Homo sapiens: one gene and its partner. The protein of the gene in region 1 purifies or fractionates together with the protein of each later gene. This does not show direct contact. Each region holds a gene or a part of one and is shown on either strand. Other genes may lie near its edges.

What was found. Proteins that work in one complex are often made in the same cells at the same time.
Region 2: the proteins of ITM2A (region 1) and KLHL36 purify together in Homo sapiens (affinity purification with mass spectrometry; 2 studies listed by BioGRID and IntAct, with this or other methods). This does not show direct contact.

What each region holds. Positions count from the first base shown.
Region 1 is NC_000023.11:79,365,235-79,368,834, reverse strand, and holds the start of ITM2A (integral membrane protein 2A), read left to right. Parts: upstream 1-1,500; 5' UTR 1,501-1,619; coding exon 1,620-1,730; intron 1,731-3,600.
Region 2 is NC_000016.10:84,655,011-84,658,681, reverse strand, and holds part of KLHL36 (kelch-like protein 36), read right to left. Parts: intron 1,812-3,671; coding exon 738-1,811; intron 1-737.

The sequences.
Region 1 (3,600 bases):
TTCTAAGCAAACTCAAACATCCTGCTTTTTAAGATTCTGGCCCTAAGTAAGGCACAGGCTCCCCGCTGTTCCCCTCCATCCACCTTCCCATCTGTGGCCTATCCAAGAAAATGAATGCTGTCTTCACAAAGGTCCCACAGTGGAAACAGGAGACAGGCTTCTGAGTCAAGGAAACATCAGTGGGAAAAACGCCAAGTTGGAATTTTTCGGATGAAGGGGTGGCGACTCAACATATTTAAGTCCGTTTCTTAGGTAGATGAGTAGATGGTAAATTCTGTAGCAAAAGCTGTTTCTTTGTTTTGTTTTGTTTGATGCTGTTGTTTTGGTAAGTGCTACTGTCTTCACACAACAGACCTTTCTCCTGTCTTCTGCAGCGGGACTATTTATAAACTGTGTACCAGTGCTACCCCAGTCAGCAACCTCCAAAGCCTGCATTGTACTTGGTAAGGTTCTCTATCAGTATCACTAACCTGGAAAAACTGACTGTGAAGAAACAGCTTGATTATACTGGCTGCACATGTAAATGTTCCAAGAATAATTTCTAACTCAACCCCTTTGAAGTTATTGTTTTTTCCTCCATTAGATCGGTATTAGCATCTGGCTAAATTTTGTATCCTCCACCTCCACCTCCACCTTCCTGAACACATAAGTACTTATACACACACACACACACACACACACACACACACACGTTTTTTTTTTCCCCCTGCAGGTTTCACAGCTGGTGGCTGAACAGAAACAGTCTCTGGGTTGAGACTTTACACTGGTTTCCCTGACCTGGAAGAGTGAAAAATCTAGATTATTTCAGGAATTTATTGTAAGCTTTCCACCCTTCTCTGTCTCATCATGTCTTATCTACAAAATGGGGTGTTGGGGAGGCAGGAGCCCTATCTTTCTGATCTAGCATCGCCTTAGGTTGAGATATTAAAATTTCAAAACACAAGCAAGCAAATAAAAAAAATAACAATTTGTTGAAAGAATCAACTGGGTAACTATAAACAGGATTCTAGGTGTCCTTTAAAAGGAAGATATTATTATCAAGGAACAGAACCTTTGTAGAATGGCGCTTTGGGGGCCTGGGTGGGTCCAGAACTAAGGAAGTTTGAGTTACTGCCAAGCTACAGTCCCAGGCCCTGCGGGGAGTCAGGTCCAAGTTTGAGAAAACAGTCATAGTCAGGGGCTATTGTGGCCTGGACAGAGGCAGAAAGACACGACACAGCAGGCTTCCTTCCTGTCTTGCTCTTATCTGAAGTTGCAGAGAGTGGGTGGGAGTATGCCTGAGGTGCAGGTGAGGCACGTTTAGCCTGAGCCGGCCACGGACTCCACTTCCCCTGCTCTTCCCCCAGTGGCAAATCCGCGCCACCTCGCAAACCCCCAACTCAGGCACTTGGGCCCCTTTTGGGCCCCCTCTCGCTCCTCCCTTTAGGCACCTCCCTGGGCCCGCCCACGGTCTCCCCCCAGTTTGGGACTGCGTCATAAGTATCCCAGACCTCGGCTTGCAGTAGTGTTAGACTGAAGATAAAGTAAGTGCTGTTTGGGCTAACAGGATCTCCTCTTGCAGTCTGCAGCCCAGGACGCTGATTCCAGCAGCGCCTTACCGCGCAGCCCGAAGATTCACTATGGTGAAAATCGCCTTCAATACCCCTACCGCCGTGCAAAAGGAGGAGGCGCGGCAAGACGTGGAGGCCCTCCTGAGCCGCACGGTCAGAACTCAGATACTGACCGGCAAGGTAGCTGTCCCAGGGCGGGATGGGGGAGGGGTGGGCGAAAGAAAGAAGGCTGGTAGCAGAGGAGAAAATGTAGCTTCCCTGGGAGGGCCCCTCTTGCTCCTCTTACGCTGTCTCTGGGGTTTACCCGGTCGCCTCGGTTCTGTCTCCTTGCGGCACCTTCTGCTTACCGCACCCTCTGTCACTCTGCATTCCCGCGTGTCGTGCCATGTTCTGTCTGTTCCAGCTCACACCAGCTGTCCTGGAGGGAGGTCAGAGAGAGTTTGAGGAGATGCCCTGGGACTCCTTGTCATTGTCTCTTGGGTAACGTGTAGGGACCTGGGGATCAAGGAGGGGCATGTCGCCCAGTCCCCACCTCCAGGGGCGCGCATAGTCTCCCCAGGGACAGAGGGGACACAGGGGGGTGAGCAAGACCGGGAGATTTAACATTTCTTTCTTTCCTTTTGGTGTGGATGAAGTTCTAAGACTAAATCTTTCTATGATCTCTGAGTGTTCGTGGAGGTGGGGTGAGCAGCAAAGGGCACTTTTAACTCCAAGCAGTATGGGTTGGGGCAAGTGGTCTGCTTGAGCGCGCGAATATTTTCCGTTTCTCTCTGGTCATAGGTGGCTTTAAACATTAGATAAAGAAGCTGTCAAAATTGAGGTGGATCTTAATGCCAGTGTTGGGTGTTCACTGTGCCCTTTTACTGCAAGAGCCTTGTATATTTTTAGAGTGGTATTTCCTAAAGAAAACACTCTTCTCTTGTAAAAATAAATTTGAGGATACTTTTCAATTATTTTTAAATTTTTTTCTTGTTGAACAACATCCCCTTCCCTCTATTTAGAGATCTGAAGCAGGTCCAGTGTTGTAATTTAAACTACTAGCTTTGACAGGAACTGGGGAAGCTCTTCCCCAAAATGTTATCCATTATTTATTTAGTCCTATTTCTACTTCTTTTAAACACCTACTATGTTTTCAGGGTTCGTATACTACTCCTCAGTATAATCTCAATTTTAAAGGGCAATAGTATTGTCTTCGTGTTCTATGAAATCTGGAAAGTGTTGGCGCTTGCAGATCTGTCCTGACTTGTCTTGTTCTCTATATAGTTTTAACTTCTGTGTTCAAAGTGGAGATATAAAAAGTCCTTTGAGTTAAATGAGAATCCATGTAGTAAAAGTTGATTGTACACACAATTTGAAATGTTAATGTGCTTATCCAGCTTTTTATTATGGAAACTTTCAATATTAAATCCTGCAGTAAAACTAGCTTTTGTGTGTTATACATTTTAGAGCTCAAAAGTAACACCCTCTTGCATTGTTGAGGTTTTGATTAAATGACAGAGGTCAAATATGTAATTGTTCTCCTGCTTAGTTTGTAGGTTAAACATGGTCAGATTTTTTGGGAGGTCTAATTAGAGGCCAGTAGTTAAATATAGCCACACAGTAATCCTTTTTTTTTTTTTCTTCACCGCCAAGCATTTCATGACTTGTAGATAGATTCAGTTAATATGCAAGCAATACTTCTGCCAGGATTGTGGGTGCGATGAGGAATAAGCAAAACTGAGCATTTGCACTTTGATTATACTTTGCTGTTACGTTTTGGAGAAAACTTAACAGGATCCTTACCTGGCCACTATAGGACACTGATAATAATATTTGACATATTGTGTTGTAATACATTGATCAGCTAGCTCATTAGAGGTTGAGCATGACAAATATGATGTCAGACATAGTGTACAATCACTTCGAAAGAGTTCCAAGAGAAATTAGCTATGGTAATTGATGGCTCACACCAACCTAAAGTCCAATAAATGTAAATGAAAACAAAAAATCCTTATTTCTAGGATGTAACATCTTATGAAATTGAAATTCTAATACTTAGGCCTTGCTTAAT
Region 2 (3,671 bases), on another chromosome or scaffold:
CCAGGGGCTTGCCAGTCAACATGAGCTACTGCACTCCCTGTCCCCCACGTATTCCCAGAAGGGGAATCCAAAATGTGGAGAGGACAAGAATCTGAAATTTCCTAGCTATGACTTAGCCAGGCTGGGATGAGACCTCAGGTCTGACATCAAGGCCCACGCTCTTCCCAGAATCAGGACACAATACATGCCCAAGGGCCAGGCGTGAGCACTAGTGGTCTCCTTAAACTATCTCCCAAAATGCTTCCAGAGGAGCCCCACAGAGACTCCAGGACCTGGGGATGTTGAACCATGGATCAAACATCTAGACCCATGCTACTGTCCAATAGGGTAGCCACGCCTCGTGCGGCCACATACACTTACACGTCAATCGGTTAAAGTGAAATAAAATTGAAAATTGACTTCTTCAGTCGCACTGGCCACATTTCAAGTGCTCAGTCGCCACATGCGGCTGTGGCTACCGTATCGGGAAGTACAGACAGACCCTTCCATCTGCACAGAAAGCCCCGCCAGGCAGTGCTGCTCTGAACGATGACGGACCCCTCGAAGGGGTGGGTCGGCTCTCCCTCTCCCTGTCCAGGATGTAGGCCCCGGGGTATTCTGCTCGTCACTTTATCATCACACCTCATTCAGAAGCAGGATAGTTGTCAAGGCCCCAGAGAGGTAAGGAAAGTCAAGGCTAGGTTAAGGAAACCGAGAGAGTCCTCAAGAGAAAAGAAATAATCTGGCTTTAATCTCACCTTGATCCACTGTTTACAGCGGGGGTCATACCTATAAAGAAGATTGGAGGCCGCATCCCCTCCGTTGTCCCGTGAGAAGCTGCCGCCGGCGATGAAGATGAAGCCCCCCAGCACCGCGACACAGTGGTGGCTCCGCCGGGCGGGCAGCGGCGTCTCTTTGACCCACTGCTCGCTCTTGGCGTCCAGGTAGCAGGTGTCGTCACTGAGCTCCAGACACCGCTCGGAGACCTCGCCGCCCACAAACAGCAGGCGCTCCTGGTTGGTGCGCAGCGCCGTGCGCTTGGTCTGCATGACGGGCTGGGCCGCCAGGTTGTTGTGGTAGCGCACGGCCTCCTCGATGAAGCCCTCGCAGTTGGCCTCCTTGGGCAGCAGCGAGCACACGGCCGGCTTGACGCGGTGCAGCAGGTCGTTCTTGGGGATGAGCGGGAAGTGGATGTTCTCCAGCACCTGGCGGGCGTGGGCCTCGCGCTCGGGCTGCTGCGTCAGCCACTGCAGGGCGGCCTGCAGGAGGTCGTGCTCACACTCCCGCTGCACCTCGCTGCTGCTCAGGTAGACACACAGCTTCTGCATGGAGACGTTCTGCAGGAAGTCGGGCGTAAAGGACAGCGTGCCGAAGTGGTTCAGGATGAAGCCATCGATGAAGGCATCAAGCCGCTTGAGGCTGTAGATGGAGGCCAGCTCCTGCAGGTACAGGTAGTTGTCCTCGCTCACCTCCTGCTCCAGGTACTCACAGCAGAAGTCTACCACCGTCCAGATCTGCAGCAGGTGAGCCGTCTCCAGGACGTAGTCAATGTTGCCGCCATCCAGCACCAGCTCCCCGCCGTACAGGAAGTCCACCACGGCCTTGAGCCCAATGTAGGAGGCGCCGATCAGCTCCACCTCCTTCTGGAAAGCTTCCCGCATGCCGATGGTGAACATGGAGTTGAAGTAGTCGCTGCACACGGCCAGCAGGTTGCGATGGGCTGGCACACGCTGCTCATCGGCCACCAGGACGACGTCGCAGAAGAGCCCGCGGAGACGCTGCTCGTTCAGCCGCTGCAGCACCGTGCTTGAGTGGTCGGCCCAGCGGTATACCTGGACAGAGAAGACACATTAGAAACGGCGCAGCAGCCTGCTCGGCCCTGGTCCAACCCAGTGGGTCCTGACCAGCATTTTCAACAAAATGAAACTGAAGAAAACAGGAAATAAAATGCTGCATCAGAGGGCACTGCAGGAAGTACAGGTGTTTCTGAGTATGCCTGTGTATCGTGGTTTTTTTTTTCCTTCTCTTATTAATATAACTTCTTTCTTTCTTTCTTTCTTTTTTTTTTTTTGACACAGAGCCTTGCTCTGTCGCCCAGGCTGGAGTGCAGTGGCACAACCTCAGCTCACTGCAACCTCTGCCTCCCGGGTTCAAGTGATTCTCCTGCCTCAGCCTCCTGAGTAGCTGGGACGACAGCCCGGCTACTGGAGTTTGAGAGCAGCCTGGCCAACATGGTGAAACCCTGTCTCTACTAAAAATACAAAATTTAGCCAGGCATGGTGGCGTGTGCCTGTAATCCTAGCTACTCAGGAGGCTGAGGCAGGAGAATTGCTTGAACCCAGGAGATGGAGGTTGCAGTGAGCCAAGAGCACACCACTACACTCCAGCCTGGGAGACAGAGCAAGAACTCCGTCTCAAAAAACAAAAAACAAACAAACAAAACAAAACAAACAAGAAAAAACAAAAAACAAACCAAAAAAACCCAAAACCAAACAACACAACAATTCAAGCCAGGCATGGTGGCTCATGCCTGTAATCTCAATGCTTTGTGAGACTGAGACGGGAGAATCACTTGAGGCCAGGAAGTTCGAGACCAACCTGGGCAACATAGCGAGATTCCTGTCTTAACAAAATATTTAAAAATTAGGTGGGCGTGGTGGCATTCGCCTGTAGTCCCAGCTGCTCAGGAGGCTGAGGCAGGAGGATCGCTCAAGCCCAGGAGCTTGAGGCTGCAGTGAGCCATGATTGTGCCACTGCACTCCAGCCTGGACGACAAAAAGAAACCCTGTCTCTAAATAAATAAATAAATGAATTCAACATAGGGAGAAACAGGTAACTGAAAACTATCACATAGATAGCTGGTCTATTCCAGGGTGACTGAGGTGAAGAACTGGCTGGGCACTAGCCTGAAGAGGGGAAATGTGGTTGGAGGAAGAAAACTGACCGAGGGCTATTAGGTATTAGCAGCTATGTGGTTCGACTTTTTTTTTTTTTTTTTTGAGACAGGGTCTCACTCTGTTGCCCAGGCTGGAGTGCAGTGGCACAATCTCGGCTCACTGCACCCTTGACCTCCTGGGCTCAAGTGATTCTCCCACCTCAGCCTCCTGAGTAGCTGGGACTACGGGTGTGTGCCACCATGCCTGGCTAATTTTAAAATTTTTTTGTAGAGACGAGGTCTCACTATGTCGCCCTTGACCTCCTGGGCTCAAGTGATTCTTCCGCCTTAGCCTCCTGAGTAACTGGGACTACAGGCACACGCTACCACGCCTGTCTGATTTTTATAATTTGCAGGGACAACGTCTCCCTAAACTGCCCAGGCTCTGAATTCTTAAAAGTTGCTTCTTAACATGTGTCCTACAGCAGTGGGTTTTATTTTTTTCTTCCCTTTCAAATCTTCTTTTTGTTGCCATACATGCGTTTGTCATTGAGACACTTTATTTCCCTGTGGTATTTCCACATCCAGTCAATTCCAACAGCAACTTCTCTGTCCATGCTACAGGAGCAGGCCACATTCTCACAGCCTGTGGAGGATGCCAGACAGATCCGACTTGGCATTTCCTTCTGAGTTCAGAGGACGGGCTCTCCCGCTCTTCCATTCCAGGCTGGCTTTTCAGTTCACAGGTCACACACGTGGAGATCTCTATTTATCCTGGTTACCCACAAAGAGAGCCAGGCTGGCCTACACCGGGCTT